2 separate regions of the Homo sapiens genome follow, and region 1 is linked to region 2. A link means that fine-mapping ties the variant in region 2 to the expression of a gene that starts in the linked region. Tissue or cell type: whole blood. Region 2 holds a variant in brackets; the other region holds the start of a gene. All regions are shown on one strand. Distances are from middle to middle.

Region 1 (5,000 bases), 31 kb before region 2:
TCTATTTTTCAAGCAAGAAAAAAGAAAAAAATATATTATCCAAAATGGCTTAGTAGAGCTTCACTCTTGAATTTCTTCAAATCCTCTGATGAAAGAATCGTACTAGAATATACAACAAACTTCGTGGCTGCATCAACGATACTTAAAACCTTGTAAAGGGCATTATTATGGGCATTTTTAACCAATTAGGATAATTTATAAGTTAAAAGTAGATGAACTTACCTGTGGAATTCCAGATGAAATTAAAGCTTAAGTTTTTTGTTGTTTTCTGTATTCCATGCTTAATTAAAACACTCAGATCTGTTGTGAACTACTGAACAGAAGAACAGAAAAAAATATATATGAGTCATAACATTAGGAATTATGACATCTAAAATCAATGTTGTATACTTAGCAAGTTGTTTTTGGAGCCATTTATTACATATCAACACTTTTTTCATTTTTGGAAAAGCCTTGATCCTCTCTTCTCGCTTTCAAATCACCTCATGCTCTAATCTGAAATTATACTTGGACACTGTTTTTTTGTTTTTTGTTTGTTTTGGAGATGGAGTCTCACTCTGTTGCCCAGGCTGGAGTGCAATGGCACAATCTCGGCTCACTGCAACCTCTGCCTCCCGGGTTCGAGCAATTCTCCTGCCTCAGCCCCCCGAGGAACTGGGATTTCAGGTGTGTGCCACCACACCCAGCTAATTTTGTATATTTAGTAGAGACGGGGTTTCACCACGTTGGCCAAGCCGATCTCGAACTCCCGACCTGAGGTGATCTGCCCGCCTCGGCCTCCCAAAGTGCTGGAATTACTGGCGTGAGCCACCGCGCCCGGCCTGGATGCTGTTTTGACAACAGTGTTTATTTTCAGGTCTGGAGTTATCCAATGGCCATTCATTTGAACGAACATTTTAGTCTATGAGGGGAAAAAAGTCATAGTCTCTTATCTGTTAGTAATAAACGATTCTGTTCTCCAGACTGATACGCGTTCAGTAATTTGTGCTTTTATCAGGCATCGACACATGCATACTAAGAGCACAAATTCAGCGCCCTTCTTTTGCTTAAGCCTCCTGGGAGAAGCTAAAAAACTTGTTCCCAGTTGAACACTGCAAACCCAAATTTTCCTTACCTCTGAAAACAGAAAAAAAGACATGGTTTGGCAATTTCTTCCTTGATAGCTTTTCCCACAACGCAGCCACCTCCTAAACGCAGGCAATCTGTGCAAAACGCAGAGGAAACAAAATCATGAAAGCCCTGCAAATCTCCCTCCTAAATCCAACATTAAGAAGGCGAACGGATACTGAATTCAAAGACTACCCGTACTTGAGGATGGCATCATTCCTTACTGCTTGGAAAAGTGAGACTCCGTTGCACCTCTAGGAATCTTTTTAAAACGCCCTGTATGTTCCTTAACACTGCCTGTAGGAATCCTGTAGCCCTAGCCCCGTGGGATTTCCTTCTCTCTCCGCCCGTTCTCCACATTCCCCACTTAGTTTCACATTCCTTCCCAATCCCTCCGACATCCCTGCGCCGGGGCCCTTCCCTAGCGCTCCGGGAAAGCGTTCGCCGCAGGCCTGTTAGGGGCCCACCAATACCGTAACACCGTTCCCGTCCTCTTCCTCGGCACCGCTGCAAACGCCCCGGGTCGCTACCCGGATTTGACGGTGGCTGGAGCGGCACGGGCGACGCAAGGCAGGTATTGCACCCTGGGGCAAGGCAAGGTGGACAACCAGCGGATGCGGCGCGGCCGCGGCCTGGGCCTGGGCCCTCCGCGTCGCCCACTGCCCCACTGGGCCCCTTCTCCCGCGCTCACCGGAGGCGGGCAGCTGCTCGTCACCGAGACCCGAGACCCACGGTGCGGCGGCTCAACCTGGGCCACGCTCCGCTCTAGAGGAGTGGGCGGTGCCTCCCGGCCTAGCTGCCGGGGTCTAGGCGTTTCCGAGGACGGCGCGTTCCGGGAAAGGCGGGTCCGGTGGCTATACCCTCCACCCAGTGGCAGGACTCAACCGCCTCGGAGACCCTGCAGGGCCGCCCTTCTCACTCACCTCCTGTGCTCGGCGCGCACCCAGCTCGGAAGCGGGAAGGTGGCCGGCGTTCTCTCCCTGCGCACACACGCAGCCTCCCCGCATCCGCACGCACGGCCGGGCGCGCGCAGACCACGCGCCAGGGCCGCGGCCGGAAGCCCCTGGCTGCACGCGCGGGCCCAGGCGGCCCCCAGCCCTGTGAGCTCGCATGGCGCGCCCTCTGGGTCCTCGCGGTCACCTTGCATTCCGAGCACGGCCGTGTTATGTATGCCTTTAGTTGATGCTGGCCAAAATTAGACAACTTAGTGGCAGACGTCGAGCTAGAATTTTTGTTTGAGATCCTTTTTCCCTGGTCGTCTTTCCAAACTGCGTGAGTGCATGGCCTCGAGGCGGCCCTGGAGGGATTTTCTTGTTAAACTTCATACAGAACTAATTAGGAAAGAGGAAATCTTAGGAGGAGTTCTTTGCTGTCTCAGAAGAAATGCCAGTTCTTCTTCCGGAATCGATGGGGAATGGAATGGGGGTAAGAGAGACACGTCAGGTTTCAATGGCCTGTGTATGGATGGGAGTCCCAGGGAGTTGCTTTTGTACACCTGAGCATAGCTGACCTAAACTCCCAGATCCATCTCCTCAAACTCCTTTTACCAAGATGTGCAGTATTGATTGTACTGGTCCTTTCCTCAAAATCAAGTGGGTCTGGATCATGTATTTAACCACTACCAAGCTCAGCCATGAGCACCACCCCTGATTGTAACCCACACATTTGCATCAAGACTAAACGTGGCCCACCATTTCTTTTTGTTTACTGACTCTTTGGCCTGACTGCTTCTTCCTTATAGCCTTTTTCTGCAAAATTACTTAGGATAGTTTGAAGGTTCTCTGAAAATAATAGGGGTGAATATAGAGATCAAAATGGATATACAACAAAAGTAAGTTTAGATAGTAGCAGTGTAAGTCAAGGACTTAGTTGACACTGCATAAATAATCAGATCTAAATTATAATAATCAGATCTAAATTATGGTTGAGATTGTTTTCCTGGTTCCAGCCTTGGCAGGTAGCTGTGTCCTTTGCAGAGGGTAAAGTGATTGCTGCCCTGCTGCACGCCTTTATCACAGCCATTCTTCACCCTACCTGGGCTGACAGTTCACCTCACTAAGTCAAGGAGGTCCATTAATAACAAAACCAGACAGGTTTCACTGCAGATAGATTAATATGCTGAAAAAATAGACCTCTTATTTGGAAGAATGCTTTAGGGCATTAATACTATATTTTACAAATTCCGTTTCTTAAAATTTTAGAAAAGTTGTATTTCAATACTCATTTTTAAAATGTTTTGAATGTCCTTTGAGTAACCAGCAGGTATATGTGCTCATAGCTGCCAAAACTTCCCTGGAATGCAAAGCAGAGCCATGGACAACAGATTGGGGTAAGAAATTCTCCTAAATGAAGTAAGTGAGACAAAAAGGCCCAAAACCTTTATGAGATTATTTCCTTTGAAGCAGTCTCCTTTTTCTTTGTGTAGCATTTATCAGCTTGTGATTGAGTCATCTATTGCTGCAGATCGAACTCTCCCAAAATATAGTTGCTTGCAAAAATGTCAATTTAATATTTCTCATAATTCTGAAGGTTGGTTATGTGGTTCCTCTCTGGTTTTGATTTGGCTCACTCGTATAGATACATTCAGCTGTAGCAGGGGTTGGCCAAGTTTTCTGTAAAACAGGATCAGATAGTAAATATTTTAGACTTTGTCTCTGTCACATATTCTTTTTTATTTAATTTTTATAAACTATTAAAAACCCAAAGCTATTCATAGCTCAAGGGCCATACAGAAGCAGGCTATGGCCTACAGGCTGTAGTTTGCTGATCCCTGAACTGGAGAATCAGCTAAGCTGAAAGTCCAAGGTGGCCTCACTCATGTGTCTGCTGTTGGCTCCATGTGGCCTCTTATCCTGCAGTAGGCTATGTTTTTGGTCTGTGGGCAACATCCAGAAGAGAGCAGGCAGAAGCTGTAAAATTTCTTAAGGCCTAGACTTGGGAGTCACACAAGATCATATATGCCAAATTCTACAAATCAAAGCAAATTGTGAGGCCTCTCCAAATCCAAGGGGCAGGCAAATAGTCTCTGCCTCTTGATGGAAGGAGCTGCAGATAATGTGGCCAGAACTAGCTAAACTAAGTGGCAGGAACCTTATTCTTGAAAGTAAATCATCAAACTTCAAATTTATGATATCTGATGGCAGCTATTGTTCTTACTCACTTCTCTCCCCAAACTACCCAAACCTGTTTATAATTCTGTGAGCACTCACTTGCCTCAGAACTTGTTTACAGATGTCTCTGCCATGAGATTATCAGCAACCTGAGGGAAGAGACAGGCCCTACCGCACTGCCTTGCTGTAATATATCTTCAATAGATATATATGGAATTTAGCTGAATAGCCTTACTGAGGTTTAAAGTCAGGTTATTTGCTTACTTCACAAAAGCAAAATAAATTTAAGTATCCTGCACTATCTACAAATTCCAGAAGAAAAGCACACATCAAAGAGTTATATGTCACACTCACATACCATCTGACCAATAAGATGGAAACCTTCCTAGCAATTTTCCGAACATATAATCAAGAGTTAGGAAGCCATATGCCTAATGATAAGTTTGAACTAGCAGTCACCTTTAAGGCTATATTACATTTTAACCTTAAATTTGTCTGCAGATGAAAATTGAAATGTAACAACAGTTCTTTCGTAATATGTGCTATATATGTTTCAAGGCAGATGTGGTTCTGGGCAGGGTTTCTAATCTACAGGAAATGCTTCTACTAATTGTTCAGTTGAATTTTTCAATATGTGCCTTCTCCAAAATCTGACTGTGACTGTCTTCTTCCACTTGATGGAAAGCTTTGACAATTTATTATGCTTAGAAGCAGCTGGGGTGTATTTCTAATTGATGATTTGTTATATTTCTTACTTGACTATCCACATCTTTCATTCTCTTC
Region 2 (5,478 bases):
CCCTTGACCTCTTCCAAACCCTTTCCCAGCCTCTAGTAACCACTATTCTACTATCTACTTCTTTTTTTATTTGTTTGTTTTGAGATGGAGTTTTGCTCTTGTTGCCCAGGCTGGAGTGCAATGGCGTCACCATGGCTCACTGCAACCTCTGCCTCCTGGGTTCAAGCGATTCTCCTCCCTCAGCCTCCTGAGTAGCTGGGATTGCAGGCGCCCGCCAGCATGCCCAGCTAATTTTTGCATTTAGTAGAGGTGGGGTTTCACCATATTGGCAAGGCTGGTCTCGAACTCCTGACTTCATGTGATCCACCCACCTCGGCCTCACAAAGTGCTAGGATAACAGGCGTGAGCCACCACACCTGGTCACGGTATTTATCTTTCTATGCCTAGCTTACTTCACTTATCAGAATGTCCTTCAAGGTCATCCATATTGCCATGAATGACAGAATTTTATTATTTTAAATTGCTAACTAGTATTCCATGATGTATATATACCACATTTCTTTTATCATTCATCTGTTGATGGACATGTAGGTTGATCACATATCTTGGCTATTATGAAAAATGCTTCAATAAACACGAGGGCAGATATCTATTTGACATACTGATTTCCTTTCCTTTGGCTAAATACCCAGTAGTGGGATTGCTGGATCATAGGGTAGTTCTATTTGTAGTTTTTTGAAGAACCTCCATACTTTTCTCCATAATGGTTAAATTTGCCTTCCCACCAACATTGTGTAAAAGCTCCCATTTCTCTCCATCCGTGCCAGCATTTGTTATTTTTTGCCTTTTTGATAGTAGTCATTTTAACTGGAGTGAGGTGATATCTCATTGTGGTTTTGATTTGCATTTCCGTGATGTTTAGTGATTTTTTTTAATAATAATATCAATGAAGAAATTCTGAAGTTATTTTGAATGTATTATAGATAGAGAAAATTGTGGGAAACCAGGGTTCTTTCCTCACTGTAGGAGAAGGGAGTAAGAAAAAAATATATAGCTCAGAGCAGTCTGAGTTATGTGAGGAATACAAAATTTATCAGGCCCAGAGAGACATAAGTATGGCATTTCAGCCATGCTTCCTTCCTACGTTCATGCCTGGGGCAGTTCTTTAAAGGCATTTTGTTTCTAATTTGCTGCTTCACCCACCTGTTATGTTCATATTCCTGGGAGGTGTGATGCAAGGAACAATGATAGTTAATAAATTATGTTATTTTAATGCAAATTCTTGGTTAAAAAAATTAGAAACTGATTCTTCTTTTTTACGTTAAAAACTCATTAGTTACTGCTGCTAATTGGAGTATGTATACAGGGCAACTTAAATCTATGCTCCTGAGTTGCAGTCCTCAAACTTGGCCCAAATAAACTCTCTACTTTGCCTCAGCTTCTTCTTGTAGGTTGACATTGGAATTAGAGGTATCAGTATTAACTCATGATTCTTTAAAATTTTGGATTTCTAGCTTTGTCTCCCAAAAAAAGCATAGAAGCAATAACATTCCAATAGCTAATTTCAAGTCTGGGAAAGGGGAGGTTCACAGTAAGCTGGAAACATCTTACGCACAAAAGTAAGAAAGTGCTCAAAATTGATGGGAACACAAGAGTTGACTTGAAGCTGTTCCCACTGGCTAAATTTGTGACAAGCTGAACATCAAAAAGAATAATAATGGTGATGGATTATATTACCTTGAAATAAGAAAAGAACCCATGAATCCATAGTGACACTCAAAATAAAGGTGGAAGTGGAAGTGAGCTCTCTTCTTTCAAAGACTGCAGCCTACAAAATACAGAAGAAATTATAGAATTAGAAAAATCACCATTTTTCAACCACCATTGGAATAATTCAGGCAAGATCACCTGTAGATGCTAAACTTATTGAGTGAAAGGTTTTTGAGGATTATTGGGCAGTATGATATTCACAGTATTGTATCTCACACACAAATTACTTATTTTTATTTAATTATTTTTTGAGACAGGGTCTCACACTGTCACCCAGGCTAGAGTGCAGTGGCACAATCATGGCTCACCACAGCTGCAACCTCCCAGGCTCAGGTGATCCTCCCACCTCAGCCTCCTGAGTAGCTAGGACTATAGGTGCCTGCCATCATGCCTGGCTAATTTTTGTATTTTTTGTAGAGATGGGGTTTTGCCATATTACTCAGGCTTGTCTTGAACTCCTGTGCTCAAGAAATCCACCCTCCTGGGCCTCCCAAAATGCTGGGATTATAGGTGTGAGCCACCGCGCCTGGCCCACAGATTACTTATTAATTACATAAACCAAATAGTATTATTTGAGGCAGGTCTCAATCAATTTAGAGATTTTGCCAAGGTTAAGGACATGACCAGTGACACAGCCTAAGAAGCTTCTGAGAACATGTGCCCGAGGTGCTTGGGTTACAGTTTGGCTTTACATATTTTAGGGAGACAGAAGTTACAAGCAAAGGCATAAATCAATACATGGAAGGTATATATTTGTTCAGCCTGGAAAGGCAGGACATCTTGAAGCTGAGGGAGGAGTCTTCTAAGTCATAGGTGGATTCAAATATTTTGTTATTGGCAATTGGCTGAAAGAGTTAAGCTCTGCTTGTTGAGTTGAAGTCAGAATAAAGAAATGCTTGAGTTAGA[T/C]TGGGGAGTTGTGGAAGCCAAGGTTCTTGTATGAAGATGAAGCCTCCAGGCTTCAGAGAAAATAGATTATAAACATCTCTTCTCTGGAGACCTTACTCTCCAGAAAAGACCTAGTAGCAAAGGAAGGAGATTCTCTACAGAATACACATTTTCTTTCTAATGACTTGTGATGTAGAAAAAAGAAAAATGCAAATTTCCCCTACAAGGACCTCTTTGCAAGGCCATGCCACAATATGTCAAAGAAATATATTTAGGGCCAGTTACAGTGACTCTTGCCTGTAATCCTAGCACTTTGGGAGGCTGAGGCAGGAGAATGGCTTGAGGCCAGGAGTTTGAGACCAACCCGAGCAACATAATGAGACCCCTATTTCTACAAAAATTTTTTAAAAATTAATTGAGCATGGTGGCATATGCCGTCCAACTACTCAGGAGGCTGAGGTGGGAGGATCTCTTAAGCCCAGGACTTTGAGGGTTCAGTGTGCTATGATCATGCCACTGCATTTCAGCCTGGGTGACAAGAGCAGGATACTGTCTCTAAAAAATAAATAAATAAATGAAAAATAAAGTAACAAAGGAAGAAAGAAATTAAAACATATATTTAGGGCCTGTTATCTGTCATGTGATGCTATACCAGTATCAAGTTGGAGTTCAGTATCTTATTGCTACAAAGAGTTTGTCTTATTCATCTTATGATCTCTATTTTTGTGTTAATGCTGGTCAGTTGTGCCTAAGCTCCAAGGGGAGCCATGTACTACCCCCCATTCCCATCGTAGGCTGAAATAGTTTTTCAGCTTTCTCTGGGATCCCCTTGGCCAAGAGTGGATCCATTCAGTCAGCTGTCGGGCTTAGAATTTTATTTTCCATGTACAATTACAATATAGTACACACTCACATGCATGTGCATATGCACACATGCACAAAATATGTTGAGATAGTATGCTGATCTTTATGAACATGTAATAGCCCAGAAATGGGAGAAGCGCTTTTTAAAGAGATTTTTCAACCACAAATCTTCACTGAAAGAAGAGACTTCTGTCTATCTTGGATATATGTCTTTTGGGACACTCCTACCTCTAGAGACCAAAAACAATTGTTCCTGAGAGAAAGTGAAGTCACCCGAGTAAAGGTGCTTAGGTTGAGAAGCTAAGCCAAGTGCTTTATTTTGTAATGTAAATCCATGTCTGTCAGCAGCAAAGCCAAGTCCCTGCAGCTTTGTATCTTCCACAGGAGAAAGGATTATTTTCTATATTTGGATTTTTATTGTTTTGGGTTGGTTTTTTATTGCTGGAGATGTGTATATGTTCTTTATGTAGTAAATCACAGAGAATCAGGAGCAGAAGCCCTAAAGCTACTGTAGAGATAGGCATGCCTGATCATCCTATGGGGCTTTAAAAAAGTGACCTGGACTTAGTCCAGTTTAGCACAGCATGGGTTGTGGTTATGCCCACTAAGATTGGATAACTCACAATGTTGTTATTGATTTGGCGGCCGTTATTTGTAATTGTCCTGAGAGGTGGAGCTCAGGGTAACCATAACACTGAGGGTTAGGGTGGTGCATCTTTTAAAAGGAGACATAATTCCACAATCATCCACCTGAGTAGTAGTTATAAATTACTGGTGTGCAAAAATTGAGATGGAGGAAGAGCAGAAACCAGAGGGAAAGGAGACCCTTTTTCTTGTTTAGGTCCTTATTGAGAGTCTGGCAAGAACCTTGAGGCATGAAGATAGATGAGAGTCAAATAGGGAGGCAATCGAGGTTGGTCTCAAATACAGAACTGGGGGTGGTGCATCGGAGCGAAGTCATTTTTTTTTTTTTTTTTTTTTTTTTTGAGACAGAGTTTCGCTCTTGTTGTCCAGGCTGGAGTGCAATGGCGCGATCTCGGCCCCTGGCAACCTCCGCCTCCCGTGTTCAAGCGATTCTCCTGCCTCAGCCTTCCTGAGTAGCTGGGATTACACGCATGCACCACCACGCCCAGCTAATTTTGTATTTTTAGCAGAGGTGGAGTTTCTCCATGTTGGTCAGGCTGGTCTCGAACTCCCGACCTCAGATGATCCGCCTGCCTCGGCCTCCCAAAGTGCTGGGATTACAGGCATGAGCCACCGCACCCGGCCCTGAGCAAAGTCATTTTTAACAGCAATTGGAAGTAACTCATTGTGCTAAGCTTCCTGCCAGCCAGTCTCAGATATGCCTAGGAAATTAAGAAATGGGCCTGCCCGTGCTTGGGGAACAATGGTAAAGGGCAAAACACTGCCTCCCCCTGAGGCCAAAGGGGAGAAAGCAGGTATGTCCCCAGTTATCAAGGATACAAAAATAGTTTCCAAAGGGTAGAGGTCATCAGGCATAAATTCTCTATAAGTCGATTCATTAACAAAGTATGTAGTCAGTCCTCACTTGTCTCCTTATAATTGGTTCACATTATTACCTGTCAATAATTCTGAAATCCCAATGCTTTTGGAAAGTTATTTTTTTCATAAGTTTGCAACTATCTCATTTGGTGGCAAAACTTGACTAGAACTTACTTGATATTTTTTACACTTTTTTTTTTATTATACTTTAAGTTCTGGGGTACATGTGTACAACATGCAGGTTTGTTACATAGGTATACATGTGCCATGTTGGTTAGCTGCACCCATAAACTCATCATTTACATTAGGTATCTCTCCTAATGCTATCCCTCCCCCAGACCCCCACCCCCCAACAGGCCCTGGTGTGTGATGTTCCCCTCCCTGTGTCCATGTGTTCTCATTGTTGAACTCCCACTTGTGAGTGAGAACATGTGGTGTTTGGTTTTCTCTTCTTGTGTTACTTTGCTGAGAATAATGGTTTCCAGTTTCATCCATGTCCCTGCAAAGACATAAACT

What was found. PIP is the estimated chance that this variant, and not a neighbour inherited with it, causes the effect.
Region 1: B3GALNT1 starts here. The variant in region 2 is fine-mapped to the expression of B3GALNT1 in whole blood (TOPMed, PIP above 0.99). The same link has a PIP of 0.9 or more in blood mononuclear cells.

Annotation. Positions count from the first base shown.
Region 1 is chr3:161,103,205-161,108,204 of GRCh38, forward strand. B3GALNT1 (beta-1,3-N-acetylgalactosaminyltransferase 1 (Globoside blood group)) reads right to left here and starts at 2,145. Exons shown (of 5, transcript NM_003781.4): 1 at 2,031-2,145; 2 at 1,115-1,202; 3 at 223-313. LOC124909453 (a long non-coding RNA gene) reads left to right here and starts at 1,477. Exons shown (of 2, transcript XR_007096147.1): 1 at 1,477-1,681; 2 at 3,367-5,000. RefSeq lists silencers at 1,700-1,949, 1,960-2,049.
Region 2 is chr3:161,133,719-161,139,196 of GRCh38, forward strand. No RefSeq gene overlaps it. Among named protein-coding and RNA genes, the nearest start is that of B3GALNT1, 31 kb to the left of the region's middle. The variant T/C (reference allele first, on the strand shown) is at 2,617.